Regions from separate parts of the Homo sapiens genome. Here region 1 is linked to region 2. Evidence: fine-mapped expression QTL. A gene starts in region 2. The other region holds a variant in brackets. All regions are shown on one strand. Distances are between the middles of the regions.

Region 1 (5,533 bases), 61 kb after region 2:
CTGAGGTTTCCTCAGCCATGCTTCCTGTACAGCCTGCAGAACTGTAAGCCAATTAAGCTTCTTTTCATTGTAAATTACCCAGTTTCAGGTAGTTCCATGCAATAACAGACTAATACATAAACCTAAATAGTAGTTTTAGGTTTACAGAAAAATTGAGCCAATATTATAGAGAATTCTTATAGATGCCCTTTGCCCTGCATACATTTTCCCCATTATTAATATTTGCAATAGTGTGGTATATTTGATACAAGTAGGGAACCAATATTGATATGTTATTTTTGACTAAAGTCCATACTTTATATTAGGGTTCATCCTTTATGTCGCACAGTTCTATGGGTTTTAACTGTGTAATTTTTGTTTGTTTGACTTCTTTCACTTACTATAATCATTTCAAGATTCATTCATGTTTTTATGTGTATCACATGTTTGTTCCTTTTTATTCCACCTTTTGTTTATTCACATGTTTGTGGACATTTGAGTTGTTTCCAACTTGGAACAAATTCAGATAAAGCTGCTATGAACATTCATGTGTAAGCCTTTGTGTACACATAAGCTTTTGGGAAAATACCTAGAAGTGGAATGACTGGGTTATATGGTAAGAGTACGTTTAACTTTCTGAGAAATTGGAAAACTGTTTTTCCAAAATAGTCATACTGTTTTTTATTCCGACCAGCAGCGTATGAGTTCTGGTTGCTCCACATCTTTGTCAACATCTGGGATTGTCAGTCTTTAATTTTAGCCATTTAACAGGTGTGTGATATCTAATTTTTAAAATTTGCATTTCCCTAATAATTAATGGTGATGAACATATTTCTTATACTTATTGGCTATCTGAATATCATCAATGGTAGGTACCCATTTTCACATCTTTTGTCCATTTTTGTATTGGTTTGTTTTCCTATTACTCTGTTTTGAGAGTTCTTTATATATTCTGGATGTAAGTCCTTTATCAGATATAAGATTTAAAAATTGTTTTTTCTTTCTCTTAACATTGTCTTTCAAAGATCAGAAGCTTTTAATTTTGATAAGTTCAACTTACCAATTTTTTAATGGATCAAGCTTTTGGTATTTTATCTAATAACTCTTTGCGTGACCCAAGGACACAAAAATACTTTATGTTTTTTTCCAGAAATTTTATCTTTTTATGTTTTATTTACATTTAGGTTTGTGATTCATTTTGAGATAATTTTTGTATATGGAGTAAGATATAGATTCAGGTTTATGATTTTTGCATATGGATATCCATTTGTTCTCACACCATTTGTTGAAAAGAATATTCTTCCTCCATTGATTTATCTTTGCACCTTTATCAAAAATTAATTGACCAGGCTGGGCATGATGGCTCATGCCTGTAATCTCAGCACTTTGGGAAGCCAAGGATCACTTGAGGCCAGGAGTTCGAGACCAGCTAGGAGTTCGAGGCCTCTCTAGAGACAGGGAGACCTTGTCTCTTTGAAAAAAAAAAAAGGCATGGTGACACACATCTGTGGCTCCAGCTACTCAAGAGACTGAGGTAGGAGAACTTCTTAAACGTGGGAGGTAAAGGGTGTAGTGAGCCATAACTGTGCCACTACACTCCAGTAAAACTCTGTCTTAAATAAAAAAAAATTGGCTGGGCACGATGGCTCACGCCTATTATCCCAGCTCTTTGGGAGGCTGAGGTGGGTGGATCACTTGAGGTCAGAAGTTCGAAACCAGCCTGGCCAACATGGTGAAACCCATCTCTACTAAAAATACAAACAAAAAAATTAGCCAGGCATGGTGGCGGGCACCTGTAATCCCAGCTACTTGAGAGGCTGAGGCAGGAGAATTGCTTGAACCCAGGAGGCAGAGGTTGCAGCGAGCCAAGATCACACCACTGCACTCCAGCCTGGGTGACAGAGTGAGACTCCATCTCAAAAAATAAATACATAAATAAATAAAATTGACTAGGTATGTTTGGTTCTATTTCTGATCCCACTCTGTATTCTGTTTTGTTAGTCTGTATGTCTGTCATTATACCAATACTACACTGTTTTGATTACTGTAGCTTTTTTTTTTTTAAGACAGGGTCTCTGTGTTGCCCAGGCTGGCATGCAGTAGCACGATTACAGCCCACTGCAGCCTCAACCTCCGGGGCTTAAGCGATCCTCCCACCTCAGCCTCTCAAGTAGCTGGGACTACAGGCATGCACCACCACGCCTAGCTAATTTTTTATTATTTGTAGAGACAGTGTCTCACTATGTTGCCCAGGTTGGTCTCGAGCTCCTGTCCTCAAGCAATCCTCCTGCCTCAGCCTCCTAAAGTGTTGGGATTACAGGTGTAAGCCACTGTGCCCAGCCTACTGTAGCTTTATAATGAAACTTAAAATAAGATGGCATAAGTAGTCCTCCAACTTAGTTTCTGTTTTTCAAAATTGTTTTATTCTTCTAGGTCCTCTGCAGTTTTAGAATATATATAATGAGCTATGTATAGCTTTTATTGTGTAATAGAAGTTGAGTCATTATCAATAAATCAGTTATTCTTTAGTCTCAGGATTAAAACAAAACAATGTAAAAGAAAAAACTTCATGTGTCACACTTTAGGTAGACAAATATTTTCTAGCTAGGTAAATAATGTCAATATTCTGTGCCATGTGAGAACTCAGCATAGAATTATGATTGCATTTTTATATCAATTAAGGTTATTTGGTTCAAGGCATCAGAAATGTAAAGGGGATTTGATGGGAAAATGTTGGGGTAGCTCATTGAAGTGGAGGGGGAGCTGCAAGATCTAGGGTAGCTCTGAGAACCTTTAGACGTTGGACATAAGTACTCACTGTCATCATGATTCTATTAGCCTTTCTCCTTTGTGTCTCTCTGGGATTTTATTTTCCTAGGCTATTTCGTGTAGTGGAGCCCATGGCCTCCAAGAAGAGGAACTTTCTCTACCACAAGACAAATTTTGGAAAGGAATCTGATTGGCTCAGCCTGGACCACTTTCATTACTAGATTAGTCACCATTATTAGGGAAATGGAAAACTCTAATTGGTGAGCTCTGGAGTTTAATGTGAGAAAGTTTTCCCAAAGGAAGGGATTACTGTTGTCAGAAGTATGGAAAGTAGTTGTTGGGTACACAAACCCAACGGATATTCACCACCATGTACTACACACAGCTGGGAGATAGATCTATTTGATGACCTTAAAGCAATAGATTGCAGTTGGTGGGCTTTCTGAAATTCTCCTTGATACATACCATGTACCCTGCTCTTCCTAAAAAAAAAAAAAAAAAAAA[AAT/T]CTATTCTCCTTGGGCTATGTGACATATTATATATAACATGTAAAAGTTGCCAGTATTTACATCTTGGTTTTATGTTTGTGAAATTATTGCTGATACTGTTTTGTTTAAATATTATATGGTAGTCCATAATCTTCATTCATATTTTTCTCTACTTTCTCCTTTAGGGTGCTGGAAATGTAAACAAGAATAGACTGTTCATTCCTGATGGCTTTTAGTCTATACTAACATATTGTTTGTCATGGCATCCGAGACTGAAAAGACCCATGCTTTACTGCAGACTTGTAGCACTGAATCTCTTATTTCCAGCCTTGGTCTGGGGGCATTTTGCCTCGTAGCTGACAGACTTCTTCAGTTTTCCACAATTCAGCAAAATGACTGGCTTCGTGCTCTCTCAGATAATGCAGTACATTGTGTAATTGGCATGTGGTCATGGGCGGTAGTCACTGGAATCAAGAAGAAGACTGACTTTGGAGAAATCATTTTAGCTGGATTTTTAGCCTCTGTTATTGATGTAGACCACTTTTTTCTAGCTGGATCCATGTCTTTAAAGGTAAAAAGCATAGGCTTAATTTTTCTGATCTTTAATTTCCTTAGCACTATTTTGCTGATCTTTACAGCATCATTTAGAACTAGAGAGGATTTGTCTTAAAATAGGAAAGCACATTCATGTAACCTTTTTGACCACTTAGTACTTGCCTAAAGATGCACACAGACATGTTGCTAATCAAATTATTTGCCATCACAAACTGCTATGGATTCACATAGAGCAAAGACCCACGAACTGTACCTAAAGAGTTCAGTGCTGGCTTACAGAGGATGCGTTTAGCCAGGTCTTGAAGAAAGTATTAGCAAACCGGTTTAAATTAACAGGGGTGATTCTCAAGGCTGTCCTAGTTCTTTCTGTATCAGTGTACTTTCTTCAGGAGCACACTTAACATTTCCCCCTTATTCTTTATGTTTTACAGTTAGTATGCAGCTCCTAAGTACTCCATAAAAGTTGAATAGCTTTAAGATGATTCCCAGTCCTAAGGAATGACTTGAACAGATTAATTCTCCCAGTCCCTTTTGGAGCGAAAGGCATGTATTTCAACTGGACTGGCTAGAACACAGTCCCTTGTGAAGAAATTGAGGAATTTCACTGAGGCATTCAGGAGTTCAGTTATATAGTTCACAAATGAACTAAACTTAAAATGTTGGTTCAGATAATATTTTCTAAATGTCAGAAGATTTGCCTATATTTTACGTGCTTATGATCTATAAACATTTCAGGAAAGAAATCTAAACTCATAGAGCAAGGACTTTCTGTTTCATTCACCCCTGGCCTAGAACAATGCCTGGCTTACCTAGTAGATATTCAGGAAATATTTGTGGAATGAATGAGAAATATTCACTTTTTCCTATTATGCGTCAAGTACCAGGTATTTCTCAGAAATTGATTCACTTATTTAGAAACTTAATCAGTAAAGAATCAGTAATTGCTAATTAAAGACAAACTTTTGTGCTATAAGTAGAGTTAGCATAACATTTTGTTTAAGATTGAAATGAGAAGACTTGAGTTTGAATCCTGGTTGTTTGGTGTTAGTAGAGTACTTTTCTTTTCTTCAGTTTTTTTTTTTTTTTTTATGGATTTAGGGCCACAAGCACAGTTGTATAACGTGTATGTATTGCATAGCGGTAAAGTCTGAGCTTTTAGTGTACCTGTCACTCTAATGCTGTACAAATAGTATTTTATCTCTCACCTCTTCTCACTCTCCCACCTCTTGGAGTCTCCAGTGTCTGTTATTCCACTCTGTATGTCCATGTGTACCCATTGTTTAGCTCTCGCTTACAAGTGAGAACATGTGTGTCTTTTTTACTTTCTGTTTCTGCATCATTTCACTAAGGATAATGGCCTCCAGTTCCATCCATGTTGCTGTACAAGACACGATTTTATTATTTTGTATGGGCAAGTAGTGTTCCATGGTGTGATTATATATCAATCACATTTTATCCAGTCATCCACTGAAGGACACTTAAGTTAATTCCATGACTTTGCTATTGTGTATAGTGCTGTCATAATCATACAAGTGCAGGTGTCTTTTTTATATAATGATTTCTTTTCTTTTTTCTTTCTTTTTTTTTTTTTTTTTTGAGATAGGGTCTTGCTGTGATGCCCAGGCTGGAGTGCAGTGGTGTGATCACGGCTCACTGCAGCATCAACCTCTTGGGCTCAGGCAATTCTCCCACCTCAGCCTCCTGAGTATCTGGGACCATAGTCACATGCCACCATGCCAGGCTA
Region 2 (5,000 bases):
TCTTAGGTGACCAGGTGCATTGTCAATAAGTAGCAATATTTTAAAAGAAATCTATTTTTCTGAATGTCATTTTCAACAGTGGGCTTAAAATATTCAGTAAATCATACTCTAAACAGATGTGCTGTCATCCAGGCTCTGTTGTTTCTGGAGTGCAGGCAGAGTAGATTTAACATAATTCTTAAGGGCCCTAGGATTTTGAAATGAGAAATGAGCATTGGTTTCAACTTCAAGTCACCAGCTGCATTAGACCTTCACAAGACAATCAGCCTGTCCTTTGAAGCTTTGAAACCAGGCATTAATTTCTCTCTGGCTATGAAAGTCCTGGATGACATCTTCCACTAGAAGGCTGTTGCATCTACATTAAAAATCCGCTGTTTAATTTGGCCACCTTCATCAATGGTCTTCGTTAGATCTTCTGGATAACTTGCTGCAGCTTCTACATCAGCACTTGTGGCTTCACCTTGCCCTTTTATGTTACAGAGATGGCTTCTTTCCTTAAATTTCATGAACCAACTACTGATAGCTTTAAACTTTTCTTCAACTCCCTCACCTTTCTCAGCCTTCATAGAATCGAAGAGAGTTAGGGCTTTGTTCTGGATTAGGCTTTGGTTTAAGGGAATGTTGTAGCTGGTTTGATCTTCTATCCAGACCATTCAAACTTCCTCCCTGTCAGTAATAAGGCTGTTTTGGTTTTTCTTATTATTCATGTGTTCACTGGAGTAGTACTTTTAATTTCCTTTAAGAATTTTTTCTTTGTATTCACAACTTGGCTGTTTGACACAAGAGGCTTAGCTTTCAGCCTATCTTAGCTTTCAACATGCCTTCCTTACAGGCTTAATCATGCATTTCTAGGTTATGATTTAAAGTGAGAGACATACAACCCTCTTTTACTTGGACACTTAGAAGCCACTGTAGGGGTATTACTTTGCCTAATTTTGATATTGTTGTGTCTCAAGGAATAGGAAGGCTCTAGGAGAGGGTGAGAGATGAGAGTGGCCAGTGAATACAGCAGCCAGACACACACAATATATATCAATCGACTTGTTACTAGTGGAAGAGATCTGAGTTACCCCAAGTTACCAGCAGCCTATCCTTGCAGGTCCATAGCAACTTCAGTCCTGGCCTCCTCAGAGAAGAAAGAATTTGACTGACAGACATAAAGCAGAAAAGAGACTGAAGCAAGTTCCAGAGTAGGAATGGAGGTTTATTTAAACAGGCATTAGAACAGGAAAGAAAGGAAGGTACGCATGGAAGAGACCCAAGTGGGCATGTGAAGGTTAAAGAGAGAAGGCCAGCCGGGTGCAGTGGCTCACGCCTATAATCCCAGAACTTTGGGAGGCTGAAGCAGGTGGATCATGAGGTCAGGAGTTCAAGACCAGCCTGGCCAAGATGGTGAAACCCTGTCTCTACTAAAAATACAAAAAAATTAGCCGGGTATGGTGGTGGGCGCCTGTAATCCCAGCTACTCGGGGAGGGGGCTGAGGCAGAGAATTGCTTGAACCCGGGAGGCGGAGATTGCAGTGAGCTGAAATCGCGCCACTGCACTGCAGCCTGGGCGACAGAGTGAGACTCCGTCTCAAAAAAAAAAGAAAAAGAAAAGGAGAGAGAGAGAGAGAAGGTCAAGTGCCGCATTTAACCATGATCTTAGGATGGGCTCCCTGCATGCTCAGAGCCCTCTTTACCCTTGGGAAGTGAGCACACACAGTGATTTTATGGATTTATACACATGCCCATCTGAGGCTTTCTTCCTTTTTCCGGTGGAGTGTATCAGAAAAATCATACTTCATCACTTTTGTCTCTTAACCGGCATGCCCAGGAAGTTGCTTCTCTCTGGGGCCTGCATTCAATTAACATTTTGATGTTAACAGGTGTGGGCCATCAGGAAATGGCCTTTCCCTGGCGCTGCCAAATTTTCATTTTTAGAGAGGCCATGTGATAATTGCTGAACCATCACCCAACATTTCTAGTGGGTGGGTGGCAGGGGAGAGCCCTCTCCTGCCTTGCTCATGCCTAACTACCTGTAACAGATTCAGTTCGCCATTTTATAATGTATGAGCATGATCTGTGGTCCCCCAAAACAATTACAGTAGTGACATCAAAGATCAGTGATCACACAGATCACTCTAACAGATACAAAAATAATGAAAAAGTTTGAAATATTGTGGGAATTACCAAAATATGTCAGAGACACAAAGTGAGCACATGATGTTGGAAAAACATGGCACCCATACACTTGCTCCATCAAGGTTGCCTCAAACCTTCCATTTGTAGTAAACTCAGTATCTGCAAAGCACAATAAAATGCACAATAAAACAAGGTATGCCTCTCTATGCTCTCACAAACCTCTGTATTTTATCTTAGAAACACTCACAACTGTAATAAATGATTGTTTATTCTTTCTTTCCAGTTAATCTCTAGCTCTGATCCTCACCCGCAAAGAACTGGGCCACCTTCCCTGCTTTATCCCCACTATGCCTAAACACACAGTGAGTGTTCCATAAACACTTGTTTAGTGGCAATAAATATAGCAGACACATTTATTTGCCACTTTATAAGGAAAAAAGGTGCAGATACATAGACGACCTATTTTCTGATACCAAATTAGGAAGAGTTCTCCATCTTTGGCCAAGTTTTTTTTTTTCTAAACAGCTTTACTGAAGTATAATCGTTTTTTACCTTATTTAAAAATAAGTACCACTCCACTAAAACGCGCTCTGTGGTTAGTTCTCGGCTGGACCGTTCAAAAGGCTGATCCTTACAGCCTTTATTATTAATACAACCAGGTCGGGACTGCTTTTGCGTGGGTCACCAGAAGTAAAAAATCAAAGAGGAGCCAACCCCATTCCGAACAAGGAAACACCCGTCCCCTTCCTACACCAATTCCTGCTCCGCCCTTCGTAGGGAACGCAGCGAGGGCAGCCTCCGGAGTGGAGGGGCGGGACTTCCGGCCCTTCCTGTTGTGGAGGGGCGGGACTTCCTGTCTTCCCTGTTGCGGAGCTCTGAAGCGGCTCCCTGAGGGCGCTGGTTTTGAACTGGTCTTGTGCGGTTTGCGCTTTCTCTTAGTGGTTACAGTTGGCGCTGTCTCCGCTTTCCTGTTTCGTGGCGGGCATCTTGGCCAAAACACTCTCCCTGCCACCTTATTCCTCTAGGGTTGTGATTTTTTTCTTTCACCAAGAAATATCACTCGCTGGTAATTTGTCAAACTGAAGAAACCCCTGAAGAAGCAGTGGTGGGCAGGCGCCGACGCTGCGGCTTCCAGAGCATTTTGGCAAATCAAAGCCAGGGACCGTTGCTGGGCCTCATTTCCGCAACTTTTCGGCTCCGAACTGCTGTGAGTGGAAGACTTTTGGTGGTTGTTTTGATCAGGCTCCTTCTGTAACTAGAGACTATAGCATTTTGAAAGAAATGAGATTCTCATTCATGTCAAGAACAGACTTGTGGATTTTTGAGTGTTAAACATACCCTGACGTAATGTGCTGGGTGATGAGAACGCAAGCGGGAATGAGACTGTAGAGATGAGAATGGCAGTGTGGGTTGGAGCCGGGTTATGGTTTCCTATGGTATGCCAAGAACCTTAGTCATTACACTGTTTGTTGTGTATGCTTGATTATTTAAAATTAGAAAACCGCCTCAGTAAAGCTATTAAAAAAAAGACCTGACCAAAGATAGACTATTTTTCCCAAATTGGAATCAGAAAATGTCTTCCATCTATGTATCAGCACCCGTTTTTTCCCCTAAAATACCAAGTAGACATACCCGATATATACGTGTGTGTTTATATATATATCTGTAATCTATATTGCCATTTGATAAGTACGTAAACAGGTGATGTAAAGCACTTGGTATGGTGTGACTTGTGGAAAGTTACCTATGTCATCAATACTAGAGATGGATTGGAGAGAGAAGAAATTCCAGACAGTTGCAGGAGTTGGAGAGTCTATGGCCTGAAAAAGAGAAAGAGGTAGAGAGAGTCAGGTTCCAAAGACAGAAAATCAACAGGACTTGTTACAGGGGCATGGAGTGGAAAGTCAAGTTTTAGAATATTGGCTGCTAACAATGAGACACCATTAATTCAAATTGCAAATTCAAGAGGAGCAGTTTACTTATTTTTCATCATTCAAATATTTATTGTGCCATTTACTATTTGCCTAATACTGTTTTAGATGCCAGAGATACTGTTACATATAAGACAGATAAGGCCCCTGCTTCGGTTGACTTTATATCCTAGTGGGAGAAAATAAAAAGCAAGTAAATAATCAATTTTGATGATAGATTCTATGAAGAAAAAACTTGAAGAGGGATGACAAATGATTGGGAGATGTTTGGGAGTAACTTTAACTTAGTTGGTCGTTGGGCCCTTGTAGGAGTTACATTTGTGCTGAAACCTTGATGATGATAAAGAACCAGCCTTGTGATTAGCCAAGGAAAAGACAAGGCAGGCAGAAAGAACTGCAAAGATGGGAAAGAGCTTGTTTAAAGAACATTTAAAATGCCAATGTATCTAAAGTGCCCTGTAGAAGTAGGAGAGAGTTGAGAAATGACATTGGGAGAGGTAGATAGGACCAGACTGTGTGGCCTTTGTAGGCCATAGTTTAGGAGTTTGGATTTTAAGTAGAAATGGAAGGTACTGGTGGGTTTTAAGCCACGAAGTGATAGATGTGATTTTCATTTTAAAAGATCCCTCTGGGCACTACTGTATGCAGACTGGATTTGAGGGAAGAGATGAGAGTGAAAGTGCAATTAGGGGGTATTACAGAAGCCTGCTTTTGGTAGGAGTGATTAAGTTCCATTTTAGTTATGTTGAGTTTGATTTATCTATGGGACAGGGACATAGAGAGCGGTCTAGCAGGCAGCCACCTGAAAGCTCTGTGAGAGGTCAGGTACATTTAGTTCTCTAGAGAAAGAAAATAATTAAAAGTGTGTGAATCTCCTCAGGAGAGACCATGTGGTTAAATATTTACTTATATCCTGACATATCCTCAGAAGATTACAGATGATAT

Alleles and levels. Positions count from the first base shown, and alleles are read on the strand shown. Sizes are in standard deviations (SD) of each study's normalised expression.
With allele T in place of AAT in region 1, the expression in CD4 T cells of the gene that starts at base 2,989 in region 2 is lower (moderate effect, 0.73 SD a copy in BLUEPRINT).

Evidence for each region. PIP is the estimated chance that this variant, and not a neighbour inherited with it, causes the effect. A credible set is the group of variants that fine-mapping cannot tell apart.
Region 1: its variant is the best candidate, but not a certain one, in a credible set for the expression of C5orf34 in CD4 T cells (BLUEPRINT, PIP 0.73).

Annotation. Positions count from the first base shown.
Region 1 is chr5:43,451,930-43,457,462 of GRCh38, reverse strand. TMEM267 (transmembrane protein 267) reads left to right here. Exons shown (of 3, transcript NM_022483.5): 2 at 3,420-3,805. The coding sequence starts at 3,494. Among named protein-coding and RNA genes, the nearest start is that of TMEM267, 29 kb to the left of the region's middle. The variant AAT/T (reference allele first, on the strand shown) is at 3,253.
Region 2 is chr5:43,513,137-43,518,136 of GRCh38, reverse strand. C5orf34 (chromosome 5 open reading frame 34) reads left to right here and starts at 2,989. Exons shown (of 13, transcript NM_198566.4): 1 at 2,989-3,331. It overlaps LOC124900190 (a long non-coding RNA gene), which reads right to left. Exons shown (of 3, transcript XR_007058764.1): 2 at 1-3,944. RefSeq lists an enhancer at 3,222-3,381.